Linked DNA regions of Homo sapiens. The protein of the gene in region 2 purifies or fractionates together with the protein of the main gene of each other region. This does not show direct contact. Each region holds a gene or a part of one and is shown on either strand. Other genes may lie near its edges.

Region 1 (4,298 bases), on a different chromosome or scaffold from region 2:
CACTGCAGCCTTGACCTCCCCGGCTCAACTGATCCTCCAACCTCAGCCTCTCAAGTAGCTGGGACTACAGGGGCATATCAACACATCCAGCTAATTTTTTAATTTTTCTGTAGAGATGAGATAATATTATGTTGCCCAGGCTGGTCTTGAACTCCTGGGCTCAAGCAGTCCTCCCACCTCTGCCTCCCAAAGTGCTGGATTACAGGCATGAGCCACCATGCCCAGCAGAAATGATTTTTTTTTTTTTTTGAGGTGGAGTCTCACTCTTGTTGCCCAGCCAGGAGTGCAATGGCCCAATCTCGGCTCACTGCAACCTCTGCCTCCTGGGTTCAAGCAATTCTCCTGCCTCACCCTCCTGAATAGCTGGGATTACAGGCACCCGCCACCAGGCCCGGATAATTTTTGTATTTTTAGTAGAGATGGGGTTTCACTATGTTGGCCAGGCTGGTCTCGAACTCCTGACCTCAGGTGATCCGCCCACCTTGGCATCCCAAAGTGCTGGGATTACAGGTGTGAGCCACCACGCCCAGCCCAGAAATGATTTTTTTAAATGATTTTTCAGCCAATAGACCGACTGGATATAAAAAAAAAAGAGCACTGAACTAAAGTATTTTCTTTTTCCAGAATGGAGTGCAGTAGTGTGATTACAGCTCACTGGAACCTCTGGCTCCTGGGTTCAAGTGATTCTCCTATCTCAGCCTCTTAAGTAGCTAGGACACCATCCTGGCTAACACGGTGAAACCCTGTCTCTATTAAAAATACAAAAAAGGCCGGACGCGGTGGCTCACGCCTCTAATCCCAGCACTTTGGGAGGCCGAGGTGGGTGGATCATGAGGTCAGGAGTTCAAGACCAGCCTGGCCAAGATGGTGAAACCCCGTCTCTACTAAAATTACAAAAATTACAGCGCGTCTGTAATCCCAGCTACTCCGGGAGGCTGAGGCAGGAGAATCGCTTGAACCTGGGGGGCGGAGGTTGCAGTGAGCCGAGATCGCGCCACTGCACTCTAGCCTGGGTAACAGAGCGAGACTCCATCTCAAAAAAAAAAAAAAAAAAAAAAAAAAAAAAAAAGCCGGCCGTGGTGGCAGGTGCCTGTAGTCCCAGCTACTTGGGAGGCTGAGGCAGGAGAATGGCGTGAACCCAGGAGGCGGAGCTTGCAGTGAGCCGAGATCGCGCCACTGCACTCCAGGCTGGGCGACAGGACGAGACTCCGTCTCAAAAAAAAAAAAAAAAAAAAAAAAAAAGTAGCTGGGAATACAGGCTCTACAGGCACGTGCCACACCTGGCTAATTTTTGTATTTTTTGTAGAGATGGGTTTTCGCCATGTTGTGCAGACTGGTCTCGAATTTCTGAGCTCATGCGATCCACCCATTTTGGCCTCCGAAAGTGCTGGTATTATAGGCGTGAGCCCCCTCGCCCAGCCCTAAAGTATTTTCAAAAATTCTTTGATCACTTCAACTCCTCTCACCCTCCCCCTCCTCTTCAGCAACCCATAATCTCCAACTCTTCCAGCTCTCTCACTCAATTTGTGCTTTTCGACCTCATGAAATCCAAGCCATTTTTACTGTAGTTCTCCTTTTCTAGCTCCACCCCTTCTCCATCCAGCTTAGACTCTCCATACTATGCGCATCACTTCAACTCTCACGCTCTAGCACCATGCTCCTCACCTCCTCGTCCGGCTGCAACTAGCCGCTAAGTCCCAGTCTTCTCGGCCAGTTCCTCCTAAGTTGTTAAATGTTGCCAAGAAAAATCATACAACTATGTATGGCACCACGACAAATTTCGAGTTTCCGATTTCAGCTGGGACCTCAGCTCTGGCATTCTATGACCTCCTTATTGCCAATCCCTCTCTTCTCGGTCTTCACCTTCCCACCCCATCTGGCACTGCTCTCCAATACCTCCTTCTCAAAACCCTTCATTTCAGAGGTTGCAAATTGGCAGCCTGAAGATCCTGCTATGTTATGTTTGGCTCTCGAAGAGTTTGGCTTTTCCTGTTCATTTTCCTTAGTTACCAATATTTAAAACTCAGTAGGTTTCTGGCTTTCTCTTGAAAAACGAAGATGTGACAATATCCCTTCACCCGCCCACATTGCCTACCTAGGTGCATGAAAGCTTTGAGCTACCCCCCAACCCCATCCCCACCCTCGCTTTCTTCCCAATTTTCATGGCTTCCAAGTTCTCTTTCTTGATATCTTTAGATTGCAACTCTTCCTCCGCCCACCCATTAAGTCCTGGTGTTCTCAAACTTCCCTCCGTAGAGGTTTTCCATTCCCACTATATAGCCCCTACACCCTGAAGTCTCCACTCAGAAAAAAGTTGGCAACCCTTTATCTGTCTCCCACAACATGATAAGTGTTTTTGGACCGAAAATGCAAAGATCTGGAACTCCATGCTTCCCACCTCTGTCGGGGCCTTCTCCGGGTCCTCCTGCATCTGTCATCCCATCCTCCAGAGAGTCCCTAGGGCCTGGGCACCCTGCAAACTCTTAGTGCAGTCAAGGTTTCCTGGCTGGGGGCCCAAGAGTTGCCACGGACCCGCACACGCTGCCCAGGCGGCGACGTGGCGCCCCTACAGGCTTCCCCGCGATTGGGGACACGCACACCCAGGGCCACCGGAGGGACAGGTGGTCAGGCGGACTCAGGTCACACCGGCGGACGCGGGGCCACTCACCTGGGCCGGGGCGGGGCAGCTCACCTGGGCCGGGGCGGGGCCGCAGGCGGGCGGGGCGGGGCCGCACCTGAGCTGCTCCAACCCGCGGCCGACGCGGCCGACGCTGCCTGGCTCCACAGCAGCTGCTGACGCGGAGCCCGCGGCCGCCCGAGCACCCAGAGCCCCGCCCCCGGCCCGCGGGCACTTCCGGGACCACTCTAGGCCGCGCGGAGGTCCCGGCGTCTCGGTGGTCCCACCGCGCCGGTTGTCGCCGCGCGAAGCCGCCCGGGCCCCGGGACACAAGGACCCGAATCAGGAGAGTCTCTCCAGTCGGCATGGTGGCTCTGGCCGTCCCCGAAGCGCGTGCTGGACGTGGGGGAAACAGAGATGGGCAGGCGTTGGCAGGAGAGCAGAGGAGGAAACAGGTCCGGACGGGCGGGCCGACCTCGAGCCGCCGGCACTCGGGGCATCTGCGCTGGTGCTGGGTGCAAGCCAGAAGCCACTGAGGCAGCTGGGGTCTTCAGGGAAAGGAGAGTGGAGCCCCAGAGCTGTCGACCCTGTCACTGTCCACAGGCACCGGGGTCCTGTTAGGATCCCCCTCCCCCAACCTGCTTCAAGGGTAGCCCTGTTCCTGTCTGCCCTCCCCGCCCCCACAGAAATAGAGATGAGAAGGGGCAGGCGAAGAACTAGGAGTGTCTGCGAGACCATCCCAGGACCCTGAGCCCCCCAACTCTCTGCATCCCAGGGCTGACTTCGACATGAAGCGCCTCCTCTCAGGCGCACCGGGAGGGAAGAGGAATGTGTTCTTGAAATGGCCGCCCCCTTGGCCGGGCGCGGTGGCTCACGCCTTTAATCCCAGCATTTTGGGAGGCGGAGGCGGGTGGATCACGAGGTCAGGAGTTCGAGACTCAGCCAGACCAACATGGTGAAACCCTGTTTCTACTAAAAATTATCCGGGAGTGGTGACAAGCGCCTGTAATCCCAGCTACTGAGACAGGAGAATCGTTTGACCCTGAGAGGCGGAGGTTGCAGTGAGCCAAGATAGTGCCATTGCACTCCAGCCTGGGCGACAGAGCGAGACTCCATCTCAAAAAACAAAAAAAAAAAAAAGAAAAGGAATCTCCGCCCCCTCCTTGCTGCTGATGGCAAGACTGGCCCCTCCACCCAGTGTTCTGCCCATGACACCCCCCCCTCAGGTGCAGCTGCCCAGCTTGTGGGAGAGCTTCCCTCCGCAGACCTTGGCCCAATCACAGGACATCAGGAGAACACACTGTCCCTGGGAAAAAGGATTCTGCCCCAGCCGCCCACCTGCCTTCAGCACCCTCAGCCTTGGCGCTCGAGTGCCTCCAATGCTACCCACACACACCTGCCTTCCTGCCCCATTAATGCTCTGTCGGGCCTTGGGCACAGACTCCAAGGGGTAGGCAGTGGCTGCCCCTCCCCAAGCCAACAGCCTGAGCTCCATGGGGACCAGCCACCCTAGAGCCATAACCCTTGGACCATAACCAGCCATGCAGAGTTGGGGGCGGCAAGGGCTGGTTCCTTTTTCTCCCTCCGGCTCCTCAGGTCACAGGAAGGTCAGGCTACCAGTTTGAGCCCCCAGGGGGCCATGGTGGGGGAGTCTGGGCCATGCCCCAATAGTCTCAGGTGC
Region 2 (3,500 bases):
TGGTTTTTAAATATAGGCAATGGTCACAAAGCTGGACTTTTCACAGCTGTGTCAGACCAAACTAAATATTTCTTGAAAACATAATTTACAGGGCATTTGTATAACCTTGCTTATAAGTATCTTACAAATTTTGCACTTTAGCTATATAAATTGTACTCTTTAATAGGCATTAGTAGGATGGTGGGGGTTCTTTTGGTTATATGTTAAGCCACCAAACCTCTTGGCTGGAAAAGATGTAGCAATACCATTTAAAGAAGTTTGCACGAGTTGTATACAGATTTCAGAGAATTCCATCCTATTCTAAAACTTCATGGAAATGAATTTGGAATCTCACAGGGAAGTAAACAGCTCCAGTCTTTTTTTCACTGATAATCACATGTGACAGATGTGTTTACGTAGAGGAACAGGAACCTTAAAAAAAAGTTTTTTACTTTCACATGATTCAACAGTTATTACACAGTGCCTGAATGTAGGTCTAATTGTTCTCTAAGATACCACTTTTAAAGCTAAAAAAGATGAGTTTTATGTGGTGTTTGAAAGAGCGTTATATGTCTTGTAGCATTATATATTTTGGATTCTTATACCAAGCATCCCTGTCTTTGCAGTTGCCACCAACTACTTGGGAAACAAAAGAAGTGTCCTGTGTATGTAGCCAGCCTCCTCCTAGAAAGATAGGAGTCTACTTTGAGAAGTCTCCCTACCTCTTTCAGTGCCTGTTGGCACAAAGCAAAGTGGTTTCACCTGAAGAGAAGACAAAGTTGATCCTTAGTTTGCAAAATCCACCTAACCTTTGCTAAGCATGAACCTCATTGCTTTCTCTTTAATGTTAGTGAAGCTGGATGTCAAAATGGTACCAACCAGTATTTTCTTTGCTCTCTTCTAGATATGGTTTTGTGGAGTTTGATGATCTGCGTGATGCAGATGATGCTGTTTATGAACTGAATGGCAAAGACCTTTGTGGTGAGCGAGTAATTGTTGAGCATGCCCGCGGCCCACGGCGAGATGGCAGTTACGGTTCTGGACGCAGTAAGCATTCAAAGGGCATACTTTTATCAGTAACGTGCTTTTGTTATCATGCTAATTTTTAAAGTAATTAATTGATATTACATTTAAACGTATTGATGTTTAAGCTATTTTGTAAATTATGTATCTTTTTTAAAAATGTAGAATTACAAATAAGCCTTTGATAATGTTTAATTTTAATTAAACTAATGACAATTTCTTGTTTATAATACTTTATAAATATGTTTAATGATGTGTGTTTGTGTTGTTGTTGTTTTTTTCTCTGTAATGCAATTGTTTAACATAGATTTAACAAAGACCTCAATGTTTTAATTAAAAGAATCCTTTGAGGCTAAGATGACTGCCTGTTCCATTTGCTGACCTTGGGTTACCTTTCCATGCGTGGCTCTTTGAACCATTGTGGCCCTTGGCTGACCAAAAACAGGAAGCCATGTGACGACCGCAACCTTTCCCCATTAGACCTGGGTGGTGAGGATCCCAAGGGTTAGACACAGATGAGATTAAACTGAAATAGGTGCCTGAAAATCTTTTTTTTTCCATATAAAATATTCACAAAATGTTTAATCACTGTGAGTAACACCAGTAACTGATTTAGTAATTTGGTTACTTATTTCTAAATTGTTAAATTGTTAATAGTTTTAAATTTATGCATGTTAATCTTAAATGCAAATATTAATGAATATGTATACTTACAACTTTTTAAATTAAATGTTTATATTTAGCTGATTGCTTCTTTAAAAATCTATTTTAGAATTAAGGGTGGGAATAGAGTTAAAACGTGCTATTGTTTGGGGTGGGGGTAAATAATATATTTAAGGGGGGGTGTGTGCTGTGTCATTTTTTTTCCTTTTCTTCCACTGAAATAATCTTATTTATTTGAACCTTCCAAAGGTGGATATGGTTATAGAAGAAGTGGCCGAGATAAATATGGCCCTCCTACTCGCACAGAGTACAGACTTATTGTGGAGAATTTGTCAAGTCGGTGCAGCTGGCAAGACCTAAAGGTTTGGGCCCCATTAACCTTTTGGGGTAAGGTTGGGCAGGAGTTAAAGTTGGGAAACAGGTAGATTTGTGCAGGCCCAGGCATACACAAAATACAGTGTTATATGTTTGAAAGCCTGCACAGAGCTGGAAATAATTAAAGTGCCATATGAGTACAAAATATATCAGAATTATATTCCTGCTATACATTGTGGGACCATCATTCTAAGGACACATTTGTGAGTTTGGTTTGGTTTGGTTTGGTTTGGTTTGGTTTGGTTTGGTTTGTTTGAGATGGAGTCTCGCTGTGTTGCCCAGGCTGGAGTGCAGTGGCACCATCTCTGCTCACTGCAGCCTCCGCCTCCCGGGTTCAAGCAATTCTCCATCTCAGCTTCCTGAGTAGCTGGGATTACAGGCACCCGCCACCATGCCCGGGTAATTTTTTTGTATTTTTAGTAGAGACGAGGTTTCACCATCTTGAACTCCTGACCTTGTGATCCACCCGCCTCAGCCTCCCAAAGTGCTGGGATTACAGGCGTGAGCCACCGCGCCCGGCCTGATTTTGTTTTGTTACAGAGTCTCTGTTGCCTAGGCTGGAGTGCAGAGGCACAATCATGGCTCAGAGATTGGTTGTCACTATGTTACCCCGACTGGTCTCGAACTCCTGGCCTCAAGTGATCCTTCAGTCTCAGCCTCCTCAAGTGCTGACATGACAGAAACCTGGCCCAAATGTGTGATAACGAAATTTCTCTCTGTAAAGAATGTTTGAAACCCTGTCTCTACTTAAAAAGATACAAAAATTAGCCGGGCGTGGTGGTGGGCACCTGTAGTCCCAGCTACTTGGGAGGCTGAGGCAAGAGAATTGCTTGAACCTGGAAGGTGGAGGTTGTAGTGAGCCAAAATCATGCCACTGCACTCCAGCCTGGGCAGTAGAGCAGGACTCTGTCTCAAAAAAAAAAAAAAGGGTTACAAGAAGATGGCAGTGTAGCTACTCACCAGTCAATAAAATGGTTGAAACCATCAGTGTTTCCTGCAGCATTTGCTATAACATGCAAATTCACATCAGCTTCAGTGTGTATCCTTACTGGTGAAATTGACAATCTGACCCATGTTTTTTCATAAGGTTTTTGATGGAATATTTGTCCTGAAAGAGGTTTGGTGTCAAGAATTAAGATTCAGTGCTAATGTTGGCCATCCAGTGTACTGGTTCCAGCTTTTTTTTTTTTTTGAGATGGAGTCTCGCCCTTTCGCCTAGGCTGGAGTGCAGTGGCGCCATCTCAGCTCACTGCAACCTCCGCCTCTGGGGTTCAAGTAGTTCTGCCTCAGCCCTCTGAGTAACTGGGATTACAAGTGCATGCCACCATGCCCGGCCAATTTTTGTATTTTAGTAGAGGCGGGGTTTCACCATGTTGACCAGGCTGGTCTCGAGCTCCTCCTGACCACAAGTGATCCACCTGCCTTGGCCTCCTAAAGTGCTGGGATTACAGGCGTGAGCC

What was found.
Region 1: the proteins of SRSF4 (region 2) and ZNF70 purify together in Homo sapiens (affinity purification with mass spectrometry; one large-scale study listed by BioGRID and IntAct). This does not show direct contact.

The regions. Positions count from the first base shown.
Region 1 is NC_000022.11:23,748,313-23,752,610, forward strand, and holds the start of ZNF70 (zinc finger protein 70), read right to left. Parts: upstream 2,801-4,298; 5' UTR 2,399-2,800; intron 1-2,398.
Region 2 is NC_000001.11:29,157,901-29,161,400, reverse strand, and holds part of SRSF4 (serine/arginine-rich splicing factor 4), read left to right. Parts: intron 1-605; exon of another isoform or gene 606-839; coding exon of another isoform or gene 840-883; coding exon 884-1,026; intron 1,027-1,390; exon of another isoform or gene 1,391-1,537; intron 1,538-1,914; coding exon 1,915-2,027; intron 2,028-3,500. UniProt on the Homo sapiens protein: Plays a role in alternative splice site selection during pre-mRNA splicing. Represses the splicing of MAPT/Tau exon 10.